2 separate regions of the Homo sapiens genome follow, and region 2 is linked to region 1. A link means that fine-mapping ties the variant in region 1 to the expression of a gene that starts in the linked region. Tissue or cell type: esophagus mucosa. Region 1 holds a variant in brackets; the other region holds the start of a gene. All regions are shown on one strand. Distances are between the middles of the regions.

Region 1 (7,852 bases):
GCCGGTCAGGGTCCAGCTTGTAGAGGTGCTGGTCTGTGAGCAGGAGGGCCCGGTTCCGGATCTTGTGGAAGCGGTTCACCTGTGGGAGAGGTGGCTGGACCCAGGCTGGTGCTGCCCTGTCACCCACCAGGGCCCCAGGCTTCGGCAGTCCCTACTGCCTCCCCTCCCCGCTGGCGACAGTTTTGGGAGTGTCAGGAGCAGCTGGGCCTGGGCTGGGGTTGCCTCCATTTTCTCCCAAGTGCCCCCCCAAAACTCTGCACCAGCTTCTAACCTTGCAGACGTGGCTAGAAAAAGAGCACAGCCCTGAAGCCATCCTTGTCCCTTGTCTAACCTTGCGGACATGGCTTGAAAAGAGCACAGCCCCGAAGCCATCTTTGTCCTGAAGTGTCTTTAGTCGCTGAGCAAACAGGCTTGATGCTGTGGGATTGTCAGTGGCCTGAGGACAGATGGAGGGGAGGGGGCGCTGCTTGGGATTGAGTCATGGGACCAGACTCAATTGATAGCAGCTGTCTGTGAATCAGCATAGCTATCCTTCATCTCGGGAAACTGAGTCACACAGACTTGTGCGTGAGCTGAGCAGCCCTGGATTTCCTGAGGGCACAGAGCCCTCTTGTGTTGACTTCTAGGCTGCATCTGAGCCTGGCCCTCCTGTCATCCACACCCACCCCCGAAGGCCACTGCTCCTGAAGCCCAGGATGAGACCTTGCAGAGCTCTGGTGGGGGCTGAGGTACAGGGCCACCAGGACAGACAACCCCAGGCCTGGGAGAGGACATCTGAGGGGACCTGGTCACAGCATTAGCCGAGAGCCCTCTTTGGCAGCCCACTTCCCCCTGGCAGCCCTGGACTCGCCTGGCACTTACAGAGGACAGGTAGTCTCGGGCCCAGGCCCGTCGGCAGCCCCAGTCCTGACGAAGCCCTTGCAGGGCCCCCATGGCGGCCACCTTGGCCTTGATCTGGGGCATGTCTGAAGGGGGGATGTTCTTCACCAGCTGCCGGGCCCGCCACCTGGGAGAGGGCATGTAGTCAGACAGATGCTGGCCATGTGTTCATGTGCTCCCTGAGCCCCCTCTCCACAGAGGAAGCTGAGCCCTCAGCCTGGTGCTGCCTGCCTTTCATGTCCCAACCTCTGCCGGCCTCTCTGGCCTTGGCCCCTTGTGCCTAACGCTTGTTCCTGGAAGGTGACCCAGGGACCAGCAGTCGCCCAGTGTCCTCCTGTTCTGAGCATGCTCTGTGCCCCTCCTTCTGGAGAACTCCTACTCAGCCCTCAAGACCCCGCTCAGATGCAGAATCCCCTTACTTCCCAGCCCTAATGGGCCTCCCCCTGCAGGCTGCAGCCCTGGACCTTGAATGCCCACCACAGTACCCAAGATGGTCAGGGCTCTGCACCAACTGTGGGACATGAGCAGTCAGCTAATGTGGCATAGCATCCACCTTCCCACCTATCAAGGGGGCTGGTGTATCTCCCATCCAGGCACTGCAGGCCCGGGATGATGGGTTAAGGTATTCAGTGGATGCCAGCTGAATGGAATGTGTGGTGGGCTGAGAGTAGTACCTGCAGAAGAGTGCGTGGCAGGTGTCCTGGAAGGGCTGCAGCACAGCAGGGGGCAGCGGCCACACAAGGTCACGCCCGTAGAGTGGCGGCTGCCTTGCAGCCTGGAATCGCCGCTGCAGCTCAGCCAGGTGAGCCCGCACCTTGTGTCTCCGGAACCAGCGCATGATGGTGTAGATAGCCCTCAGCCTCCGGCAGCGCCACCTCGCCAAGGTGCCCCGCCATGCCTGGGTGGGCCAGGTGGGATGGGATACGCAGTCAAATTCAATCAGGCCCTAACCCTTAGACCCAAACCTGGCCCTGAGCATTTATTGAGCACTCCCTGGCCTGTCTCCATCAAGCAGAGACTCCTGTGAAACTTACAAGTGTGTTTGTGGCCCCTGGGACACAAGCTTTCCCCACCTCCATAGTGGATGTCTTCCTGCCCCGCCCACCTCACCTTCTGCAATAGCAGCACAATGATGGGGATGAGGCGGGCTCGGCTCTGCTCCAGTGTGACCAGTGTCCGGGGTGAGCGGATGAACAGCTTGCTGTGGCCAAAGGCCACGTCCCCCTGCAGCCCGTGCTGCTCCAGGAGAGCGCTCACGGCTGCCTTGTCGGAGCCCAGCAGGTGGTTGGGCCATGTGTATTCACAGGTCATCTTGTACCTGTCACCACAGGACAGGGCAGTGTGGCCCAGGCCTGGGGGAGAGATGATGGAGCCCACCCTGCCCACCCCACACCTGGGGAGATGGCAGGGATACAGAGTGTGTTCCTGGAGCACTTATGACACCTGTGCACATATGTCTTCCCATACACATGTCCTCACATACATGTCCTCACACAGCCCTCATACCCATGTTCCCACCTGTATGTCCCCACATGCATGTGCTCACACACATGTCTTCCCAGATATTTTGGTGTCTTGAGGCCAGCAGCGTGCTGGTTCCTGCTTGTATCGATGTTTGCGACGTGCTGTTTGGGGACCCTCTGCTCCTACCCCTTGGACTCCACACAGGGACTATGGCCCATGGAGTGATGGGTGTCAGGTGCCAGTACCTGAGCAGGAATCGAGAGTAGGGCTGGCGGGAAGCGAAGCCAGCCCTGCGGACCCTCACATTCTCCAGCAGCCCCAGGTATGCGACCTGGTGGCGACAGTGGTTCTCATCCAGCTTCCCAGCTACCTTGTCCTCATTGGGCTTGATGCAGCGGACGTAGAAGGGCTCCTGCAGGGACAGAGGGGACTTGGAGAGGGTCTGCGCCAGCAGCACTGTGCACCCTGCCCCACACCAGGGGCTTCCTAACCCCTCAAGGTCCCAGGCCAGGAGAAGAGTTGGGAACAAAGAAGGGAAATCAGCAGAACAAGGGCCCTGGAAGCCCTAAGTGCTGGGCAGAGGCCAGCAAGGCCAGGTTCAGAGCCAGGTTCCAGCCCCTGGTCGGGGGGTGGGGAGGTGGGCGTGGCAGGGGCAGGAGCAGGCCTCGCCCCATCTGCCTTCCTTCTCTCCTTCCAAAAGGGGCTGACATCTCTGGATGTTCTGTAGTTAAGCTCACCCTAACATGTCCTCTCCCTGACCCTTCACCTGTTCCTCTTCTGACTTTTGACCCAAAGCTCCCCAAGAAAGCTTGTGCCAGTTTCCTGTCTCTCTGGCCCCACCTGCCAGAAGAATCCTGGGTTTTTGCCAAGAGCTGGGCTGGGCCAAGCCAGCCTCTCAGCAGGGTCTCCCCAAACCCCTCCCTGTTCAAGAGACAATGGGGCGAGGAGAAGCCTGGGTTCCCCATGATTGATCAAGCCTCAGCCCAGCCCCTGAGGCCCCACATCTCACCTGTGCAGTGGGTGGGGTCCACTGCTGGAGCAGATGTGGCTCATACAGACAGGACAAGAACCCTCTCCCCACCACTATGATGTACAGAGGTGGTTGGGACCCTACTTGGCACCGAGGGCACAGAGAGAAGGATCCGGAACAGCCAGAGTGGGAGAGGGGTGGAACATACCTTGGAGGCAAGGTTCTCCACCAGGGCCACCATGGAGTTCTTGAAGAGTGTGCCAGCCGTCAGGGGGCGCTTGGTCACCTCTGTGATGTCCTGCTGCCCGTCCGGCCACATGGCCCGTAGAGTGGGGTCCGTGCTGCAGACACAGGCCGAATTCCCAGCCATCCTCTGGGAGAGCAGCCCCACCCACCCACGTCCTGACGCTAGTCAATGCCTGACCCCAGAGTCTCTGGGGCCCCAGGGCCCTGGCCCTCCCTATGGTGCCCAGCAAGCCGTGCTCACCTGTTGTACAGCAGCCGCTTGAAGTCCTGGAAGAGGAAATCTCTGTTCTTGTCGATGAAGCCTTCCACGGAGTACCTACCAGAAGCCAGGGCTGGTGAG[G/C]GAGCAGGGGCGGGGGCTGCCAGGCCAGAGTGCTAATGACCCCAGCAGCCCCCACTCTCTTCCCATCTGCCTCTGTTCCCATAGGTCAGTCTCTCTTCCTCCCTCTGCCTTGGCTCCTCTCCTCCTTCCCCCTCACACCTGCTTTCTCTTTCGTCATGTAAGACTCCCTCCCTCAGGAGACATTTCTCTCCTGGAAGATGAATCGAGTGGTTAAGCCCCCAGCTCTGAAGCCAAATGTCCTAGCACCGAGTCCTGCTTCTACCACATGCATGCTGTGTGACTTTGCCTAAGCCACTCAACCTCTCTGTGCTTCAGTGTACATCAGTTGCTCAGAACAGTGCCTACTGAATTTTGATAAACATCAGCGACTACAACTATGACTAGGAACTCCTGAGTCCTGGGCCTATTTTGATCTGTGGGCACTGAGAGCCTCAGAATCACTGTCTAGTTCTTGGACTGCTAGAAAGGTCAGTGCCAAATCTTGGCTCCAACTGCAGCACCTATGAAGGCTCAGGGAATGGATTTTTTTTTTTTTTTTTTGAGAAATAGTCTCACTCTCTTGCCCAGGCTGGAGTGCAGTGGTGCGATCTCAGTTCGCCACAACCTCTACCTCCCAGGTTCAAGCAGTTCTTGTGCCTCAGCCTCCCGAGCAACTGGCATTACAGGCACGCGTCATCGTGCCCGGATAATTTTTATATTTTTAGTACAGATGAGGTTTTGCCATGTTGGCCAGGCTGGTCTCGAACTCTTGGCCTCAGGTGATCCACCCACTTTGGCCTCCCAAAGTGCTGGGGTTACAGGCATGAGCGACCTCATGGGTGTAGATTTTGCGAACAGATAAAGGTAGATGATATTGGGCTGCTTTGTTGTCATCATCTATTCTATTCCCTCTCCTTGAGAAGTTCTCATGAAACACTTATACCTTGATGTGAGTCACCTTAAATCGTTTTGGGATGCGGCAAGCAACACATAAGTTAATAGCCATCATGACAACCCCTGAAGACACCTGGGCTTTGGCACTGGGAGCGTGGTCCAAGTATGGTAGCGAGGCCTCACCTGGGAGCTTGTTAGAAATGCAGAATCTTGGCCCCCCTGCACCTTCCACTCCCTCCCCACCCCCACATCACCAGCCTGAAGCCCCCCACCCCACAGATGCTGGTATAGGGTTGGGCCCAGACATGAGACGTGGGTATTTTTTAAAGGCTCCCAGAAGAATGCAGCCATGGTTAACCACTATCCTCAAACCCTGTTTCCTGCTCTTCACTTGTGAATCTGCTGTCCGGCATGTTTCAGTGTCTTAAAGGGGTGGGGGTGGCAGAAGTGGCCATAACACCTGTCTCCGAGCCACTCCCCTGAAGCGCTCCTGCCCCATGACACATGCCATGGTGCCTGTGGGAAAGCCAGGGATGTGGGTGGGAGGGGGCCCTTACGTGACGTCCCCTGCATAGTGCTTGATCCGGAAGTCTCGGCCAAACTCCATGGTCTTGTCTGTGGGGCAGAGCTATGGGGACAGGCTGAGGTCAAGGCACAAAAGGTATGTGGAGGGTCTGTATGAAGGGATAGCCCTGCCTCCCCACCTCCAGGGCAGAGAAGGTTGCCACAGTGACGACAATGGCACCAAAGCTGGGTCCCCAACCAGGCCCCACGAGGCATGGGCAGCATGGTGCCTGTGGGGCAGGTCCCACCAGCCCACTGTGGTGGCACTGGGACAGCCGGGGGCACCTGGCGGCTGGTGTAGTGTAGGTGATGGCGGTGGTGCATGTCCAGGGTCTGCAGGAAGATTCGGTCAGTGATGGTGCCAGCAGAGCTGCAGGCCTCGTCCAGCACGGCCAGGATGCCACGGTGGGGCCGCTCCACCAGATCCACAATGGTGGCGTTGTTGAAATACTCAACCTGGGGCAAAGGCAGCCAGCAAGGAAGCTCCCAAGGTCTTTCAGGCCACCTCCCCTCCTCCGCCCCACACTCAGCCACCTGTCAGGCCAGCCCGGGCCCCTCCCCATGGGCTGAGGCCCCTCCACACCCCACTGCCTGGCCTCCCTCCAGGCCACAGTGCTCACGCTCTGCCAGGTGATGCCCTCGCGCTCGTACTCTTCCTGTTCCTGCTTCAGGATGAGCTGGATGAATAGCTGCTGCAGCTTCTCGTTGCAGTAGTTGATGCAGAACTGCTCGAAACTGGGGGTGGGGTGGGCCTTTCAGAGGGGAGGTCGCTGCTTGTGGAGTGCATGGTAATGGGTGGCTGCTCCCCTGAACATCTCTGCTAATGTTCATTGAGGGTTCTGGTGCCAGCACCCTGTGTGGCTTCCCTGTGGCTTATGCATCCCTGCCCTGGACTCCTTTACCCCACCCACACCTCCTGCATGCACGTTCTGGAGTGGACTTGGGAGTCACAACCAGGAATTACTCATGCCCCGTAATTCTGCCTTCCATCAGGACATCAATGGTCAGAGGGTGCAGGTGAGGCAGGTTTGGGAGGCATGAGCCTTGGGCCCAGGGACCAGCCGGGAGAAACCCCAACATTCCTGCTGCCCAGCCCCAGCCGAGCTTTCCAGAACTAAGTGGGCAAAGCTGCTGGGTGTCAGAGGTGGAGATGTGGCTGGCCAGCCACCCACCTGTTGACGGGAAACACCTCGAAGCCATAGATGTCCAGCACGCCAATGACTGTGTCCTTGCCATCACGCCGAGGATCCCGGCCCCGGGGTTCCATGACACTGTTGATCCTGTTCACCACCCACTCAAACAGCCGCTGGTACACTGCCTGGGGGATAGGAACACCCTGCTTCCTGCTGCCTCTGGCCTGGCCTCCCCCATGAAGGCCTCCTGGGCTTCCCTCCCTGTGCCTGCCCCCAAAGTACCTTGGCACAGGCATCCCGGGCATAGCTGGCCTCAGCTGCAGTGTGGCCCTTCTCTATGAGTTCCCTGCCTCCCGAGGCAACTGTGCGAGCCAGCAGGGAGCGGAGCACGAGGTCCCGGGGTGTGGCCGTCAGCTCAGCCACATGGTCCACCAGTGCCTCCTCGGCCACTGCCAGGCCCTCCTTCTGCAGCCCACCCTCCTCCGTCTCCACAAACTCGATGTTTCCCTGGTGATGGGAAAACCATGAACAGTCCGGGCTCCATGTCTCAAAAGAGCCTGGACAACTTTGGACAAGAAGGAGGAAGGAAAGCAGGGGACATGGATGCGGTAGAGTACAGCTCCTTCTCAGACCAGCATGGTCAGCTGCTCACCATGGGCACAGACACAGCCAGAGACTGGGGGAAGGGGGCATGGGCACACCAGAGTCTCTGCCAAGGCCTCGAGGCCTCGAGTCCAAATGACATGTGAATGACCCCATCGCATCCTCCCACAGCCAGCGGAGCCCTGCACTACTTACTCCTCATGCCGCTTAGAGAGAACTGAGGCCAAGAGGCACTGAGTAAATGCAACCAAAGCCACACAGCTCATGACTGCACTAAGAGGCAGTCTGCATGATGCTCAGCTTTTACTGCGCCTGGCTGACCTGGCCCTAAGAATGGGGTCTGGACCATGTATCAACTGAGCTCATCACTCGAGCAGCTCAGCTTCTGCAGGAGAGGCAGTCAGCCTAGCACATTGCTGGGGCATCTCCAGCCAGTCTCCTCCTCATCCCTGGGTGCTTCCCAGCCAGGAAACCCTTGTGGGGAAGTAGCCCTCCCAGGCTTCTGAGCCAGGCTCACCAGGTGCAATATGGCAGCCAGGATGCGATGCACAGACTCCACCTCTTCAGGACTGAAGCCGATGACCCTCATGGCCTCGGTCACTGCCTGGTGGCTCTGCTCATCACTGTCCAAGGCCTAGGGTAGAAGGGATTCATCACTCCAAAGCCACACTGGGCCCAGGACACCTGTCTCCCTTGAGGCTTGATTCCTCCATCCTAGGCACCTGCTCACCCCTGTCCCCTGTCCCCTTCCTGAACCTGATTACTCCAGCCTAAGCACCT
Region 2 (6,038 bases), 140 kb after region 1:
AATATCAAAACTCAGGAACATTACAGCCTGGGTGGGAGGGTTTCCATCCTGCTTGTAATTTGAAATCACCTAGGATGTGGTTCAATAATTCAGATTCCCAGGTCCTGCCCAAGGCCTCCTAAATGATGGCATCTCTGCAGACACGACCTAGACAGCATTAATTTTTTTTTATTTTTTTATTTCAAGGGTAACCAGGATTAAAAATTACGGGCTTGGCCAGGCGTGGTGGCTCACGCCTGTAATCCCAGCACTTTGGGAGGCCTAGGCGGGTGGATCACTTGAGGTCAGGAGTTTGAGACCAGCCTGGCCAACATGGTGAAACCCCATCTTTACTAAAAATATAAAAATTAGCTGGGCATCATGGTGCACGCCTGTAATCCCAGCTACTTGGGAGGCTAAGGCACAAGAATTGCTTGAACCTGAGAGGCGGAGATTGCAGTGAGCTGAGATTGCACCACTGGACTCCAGCCTGGGTGAGAGACTCCATCTCAAAAAAAAAAAAAAAAAAAAATTCACATTCCCAAAGCCTCTGTGGATATATTTTAACACTGTAGACATAGGTGTGAGCCTCTCGAAACCAAGGTAGATTACATCACTAGCCTACTAAAACCCCCCCACCAAATTTCTAACAGCAAAAATTCTGAACCAATAATAAGAAGCACTTCATAACATGGCCCAGAATGATTTTCTCAGTCTTAGCTTTTTCTGCCTCCCAGCAACACAAGGCCCCATTTTAAACAGGCCTTGCACTTCCACTTCACCTTACAGGGCTTGTTATCTGGGTCTCCTCCTCCCCCTATAAGACCCTTTAAAATACATCTCATCCTTCCAAGGCCAAACTCAATGTTGCCATCTCCAGCAATGTGTTACATATAGCCTTGATGTTGCTTTTAACAATTCTATCGGCCAGGCGCAGTGGCTCACGCCTGTAATCCCAGTACTTTGGGAGGCTGAGGCGGGCAGATCACGAGGTCAGGAGATCGAGACCATCCTGGCTAACACGGTGAAACACCGTCTCTACTAAAAATACAAAAAAATTAGCCGGGCGTGGTGGCGGGCACCTGTAGTCCCAGCTACTAGGGAGGGTGAGGCAGAGCTTGAAGTGAGCCGAGATCGCGCCACTGCACTCCAGCCTGGGTGGCAGAGCGAGACTCTGTCACAAAAAAAAAAAAAAAGAAAAAAAATTCTATCAGCTAGTCTAGCTCCCTACGGTGATTACATGATCCAGGGAAGACATGCGACAAGGGCAAGATAAAACGTTCACCTAGGCCTCATTTCTGCCAAAGCAGAATGTACGTTTGATCTTTCTCCACTTCCTGGAACTTGGTATATGGCCAGCACATTTTCTTTTTATATGAGGGGATTAAAGCAGCTGTAAAAAGCTTAGTCTAACTCCACTTAAAGAAAAAAAAAAAGAGAGAGAGATCAGAGAGTCGGAGTATTTGCCCAAACGCAACATCTACCACTTCCTGAGCCTAAGCACAGTGTAGAAATCTTTCCGACTTATTTTTTTGAGACGGAGTCTCGCTCTGTCGCCCAGACTGGAGTGCAATGCTGCGATCTCGAGTCACTGCAACCTCAGCCTCCCGGATTCAAGCGATTCTCCTGCCTCAGCCTCCCAAATAGCTGGGACTACAGGCCCGCGCCACCACACCTGGCTAATTTTTGTATTTTTAGTAGAGACAGGGTTTCACCATGACCTCAAGTGATCCACCCGTCTCGGCCTCCCAAAGTGCTGGGATTACCGGAGTGAGCCACCGCGCCCGGCCGCCTTTCCAATTTTTTAAGAGCCCTAAGAGCAGTTTAGCCGAGTAAACGGAAGCCCAGGAGCCAGACTTGAGTTTAGGCAAACAGCAATCCAAAACTTTAGTTCTAAAATGCAGAGAGAAAACAACTTGCACTAAGTCACGAAAACTGGCTCGCTGGGGTCATGGACGGTCAACAGGGGCGGCGTCTTCCAGGCCTGGCCGCGCGGGCTAGAGAGGAAGCGTGCGCACTGGCAAGCCAGCACGGAACGAGCAGACGGCCAGGCCCACGGCATCCCACCGCGTCCCAGCCTGCTCCCCAGTTCCACCGCATCCCAGGACCTTCCCAGCCACGCCTGTGTTGTGCACTCGAAACCCACGATCAGCCGCCCCTTCTCCCCGTGCCACAAGACCTACGCAGCGAGCACCACCGCTGACCTCCATCCGCCGCCCTAACTGTCCCCGGAACCATGAGGTGCGCGGCGCGCTTCCCTACGTCACTCGGAGCGCCGGCGGAAACGAGACGAGCCTCGCCCCGCACGTCCGGAAGCCACGCCTCCAGCTTCCGGCCACACCTTTCGGCGGGTGACATCTTTGCTGAGGGCTCAAGCGGAGCGATAGGTCATGGGAAACTTAGAAAAGATAAAGAACCTAGGAAGAAAGGCTTCGGTTGCCCCCCGACCAGTACGCCATCCTCATACGGAGTGCGGGAGACGACCCTTTGTTGTCGGTGCTGTCACCCTATCCCTCCCTGCTTGCGTAGGCGTAGGAGAGTTCCTAGGGCGGTGGAAGACTGGGCTGGTGGAGTGGGATAGGCGACGTTGAGGCCTGTGGGGGCTGGGAGGACGAGTGAGTGGAGACTGGGGAACTCCAGAGCGCCCACTTGCAGCTGGATTTTTATGTGCAATTTTCCTGATTTTTAAATAGTGGTGTTTAATTACAAAGTAAAGTGCAGGATAGCCCAAACGAAATGTATCTGAGGTCTATATATGGACTTGATTAATTTTTACTTCCTGCACAGCCTTTTATTTTCTGTGGAGTTAATAATTACTTGGCTACGCACGGTGGCTCACGCCTGTAATCCCAGGCCTCGGTGGGCGGATCACTTGAGTTCAGGAGTTCGAGACCAGCTTGGCCAACATGGCGAAACCCCGTCTCTACTAAAAATACAAAAAAATTAGCCGGGCGTGGTAGGGCGCACCTGTAGTCCCAGCTACTAGGGAGGCTGAGGCATGAGAATCGCTTGAATCCGGGAGGTGGAGGTTGCAGTGAGCAGCGATCTTGCCACTGCACTCAGCCTGGTTGACAGAGCAAGACTCTGTCGCAAAAAACAAAACAAAAAACATAAAAATAAATAATTACGTTTGTTTGTGTTTGTAAACTAAAAATAAAATTGTAAGCCCCCCAAGCACTGAACGGACCTCCTCTTAGCCAAGGAGACCCCAGAGAAACCTTAAAAACTGAGTTCCCAGCCATTCTGGAAAGGGAGGTTGAACACCCCTTGTTAAAGTAGAGATCATAAGACTAACAGACTTTGTGGTAGTAAGATACCAAATTATAAACAAGACCTAAGGCCGTGCAAGGCAAGGGTTAAGTCAAGCTTGCAGACCATCAATCTTGCTGAAGAGGTCTTTTTTGACCCAGTGTATTGTGGCTGATTCTGGCATACTATCTTAAACATTCTTTTCTGCTGACTCCAAATTTTACACAGAGCCTCACTCTTTTAACCAGTTGCAAATTAAAAAATCTCTTGGTCAAGCTGGCTGAGGTGGGAGGATCACTTGAGGCCAAGAGTTCAAGACTAGCCTGGGCAACATAGGGAGACCCTATCTACCCCTACCAAGAGATCTATCTATCTATCTATCAATCAATCATATATCGTGTATATATCTATGTATTTGAGTCCACATATAACTTGTAAACCCCCCACATCAAGACATCCTGTCTTTTGGAGCCAAACCAGTGTATACCTTCCACACATTGATTTATGTCTTTGCCTGTAACCCCTGGCTCCCTGAAATGTATAAAACCAAACTATAATCTGACTGCCTCGGGAACACTTAAGGCTTTTTGGGTTTGTATTTTCCTGGGGCTGTGGTCACTCATTGGCCCTGAATAAACCTCTTTAAGTAATTTACAGAGTTTGATTTTTCTGTTAACAGTTAATTAAGATTCCATGTATTTATCACAAATTCTACTCCAAATCCTTCACAAGTTGTCTGTCAAAAGACAATATTACAACAGATTTATAGATCTGTTAAAAGAAAAGCTTTAGACAAACTAATGGAGTTTTGTTGAGGAAAGAACCTTGAAAACATGCTAAGGGAAAGAAGTTAGACACATGAGGCCACATATTGTATAGTTCCATTTATATTTGCAATGTCCAGAGTAGGTGAATTGATAGAGTCACCTATGTGATGTTGAGGTGGGGAGAATAGGGAGTGACTTCTGATGGGTTTGAGGTTTCTTTTTGAGATGGTAAAAGTGTCCTGGAATTGGATAATAGGGATGGTTGCACAACACTGAGTATACTAAAAGCCACCTGTGACTTAAGAAATATATATGTGGTCTCTGCATAGAGCTTCTAAAACCCTTGTAACTTTTTTCTTTAGGTTTTCATTAAGGCATTTTATAAAGATAATATCATTTGTATTTATAAAATGTTTGCTACATATACATAATATATATAGTGTATATATAAATTTAAATATGCTCAAGTTACAAAGCAGAATTATGAAAAGAAACCCGTGAACCCATTACTCCACTTAAGAAATAGAATATTACCAATATTGTTGCAATTTTCTGAGAGTTTCCTCTTCTTTCTTATCCCTCCACCCCAGCTAATTGCTATCCTGATGTTTTTCATTTGTGTATGTGTATTTTAATTTAATTTAAAGTTCCAGGATACATGTGCAGGACGTGCAGGTTTGTTATATAGGTAAACGTGTGCCGTGGTGGTTTGCTGCACCTATCAACTCATCACCTAGGTATTAAGCCCTGCATGCATTGGCTACTTATCCTGGTGCTCTCCCTTCCCCCTGTCCCATGGACAGACCCCAGTGTGTGTTGTACCCCTCCCTGTGTCCATGTGTTCTCATTGTTCAGCTCCCACCTATAAGTGAGAACATGCAGTGTTTGGTTTTCTGTTCCTGTGTTAGTTTGCCAAGGATAATGGCTTTCAGCGCCATCTGTGTCCCTGCAAAGGACATGATCTCATTCCTTTTTATGGTTGCATAGTAGTCCATGGTGTATATGTACCACATTTTCTTTATCCAGGCTATCATTGATGGGCATTTGTAAAACACTTGTAACTTCTTGAATGATAGTGACATCTTTTGTTATTCATCATAAGCCCCTTTTAACCATACCTGAGTTTATGCCACTAATGAAGTGGCTTTTGGAAGATGGGAGCTGGTTATCAGAGAAACCAACCATGTGATTAGAGGGCTGAAACTTTTAGCCCCACCTCTCAACCTCCAGAGAGAGGAGAGAGGCTGGAGATTGATTTGATTACAGTTTATCTAAAAGAAGAAACGGAGGCAAAATTAATAAAAGTGGAGAGTTTACATTTGAACCAAAATGAAGACAGCTGCCCAGAAGACTCACATGCAAGTAACCTGGGATATGAGCTTCATTAAGCCTTTGTTACAAGCAGGTTTTTAAAGGTAAAAAAGGGGACTAGGCATGGGGCAGATAAAAAGTTGTTTGTCAGGAATTCTCATTGGTTTACAGAAATAACATTGATTAGTGATGGCTATACATTGTTGAATGATAGGGTATGAGTTATGTTGTGCAGCATGCAGTATTGTTAGGTTAATTTATAGCTACTTGGGGGGCAGTCAGTCTAGAGTCCACATAGCAAGCAGCTTCAAAAGATGATTATTCAGCAAGAGGGAGGAAGTGAGATGTGACTGCTGTCTCTTTCTCATGCCTTTTTTTGGGCCTGATAATTTAGAGGAAGCTCATATTCCTCATATAAAAACATTTCTTTTGACTGTCATTACTAATGGCCAATGATTTTATCAATTATACCTAGGTAATGAAACTTCATAAAAACTTATTAAACAATGGGGTTCAGAGAGCTTCCAAGTTGGTGAATGCATCCACATGCTGGGAAGGTGTCACCTCCCAAACCCCATGGGAACAGAAGCTCTGATGCTTGAGATTCTTCCAGAAGTGTTGTGATTAGAGGAACAGTTTCCTTTGGAACCTGGCCCTAAGACTTTTTTTTTTTTTTTTTTTGAGATGGAGATTCGCTCTGTCGCCCAGGCTGGAGTGCAGTGGCGCTATCTC

Evidence for each region. PIP is the estimated chance that this variant, and not a neighbour inherited with it, causes the effect.
Region 2: TBRG4 starts here. The variant in region 1 is fine-mapped to the expression of TBRG4 in esophagus mucosa (GTEx, PIP above 0.99). The same link has a PIP of 0.9 or more in cerebellar hemisphere.

What each region holds. Positions count from the first base shown.
Region 1 is chr7:44,964,084-44,971,935 of GRCh38, forward strand. MYO1G (myosin IG) reads right to left here. Exons shown (of 22, transcript NM_033054.3): 7 at 7,590-7,706; 8 at 6,752-6,976; 9 at 6,509-6,654; 10 at 5,957-6,071; 11 at 5,622-5,792; 12 at 5,330-5,400; 13 at 3,801-3,875; 14 at 3,522-3,654; 15 at 2,589-2,755; 16 at 1,990-2,197; 17 at 1,554-1,777; 18 at 862-1,006; 19 at 332-436; 20 at 1-79. Among named protein-coding and RNA genes, the nearest start is that of MYO1G, 11 kb to the right of the region's middle. RefSeq lists an enhancer at 1,975-2,074. The variant G/C (reference allele first, on the strand shown) is at 3,900.
Region 2 is chr7:45,109,481-45,115,518 of GRCh38, forward strand. TBRG4 (transforming growth factor beta regulator 4) reads right to left here and starts at 2,217. Exons shown (of 11, transcript NM_004749.4): 1 at 2,163-2,217. RefSeq lists enhancers at 1,916-2,625, 1,989-2,744.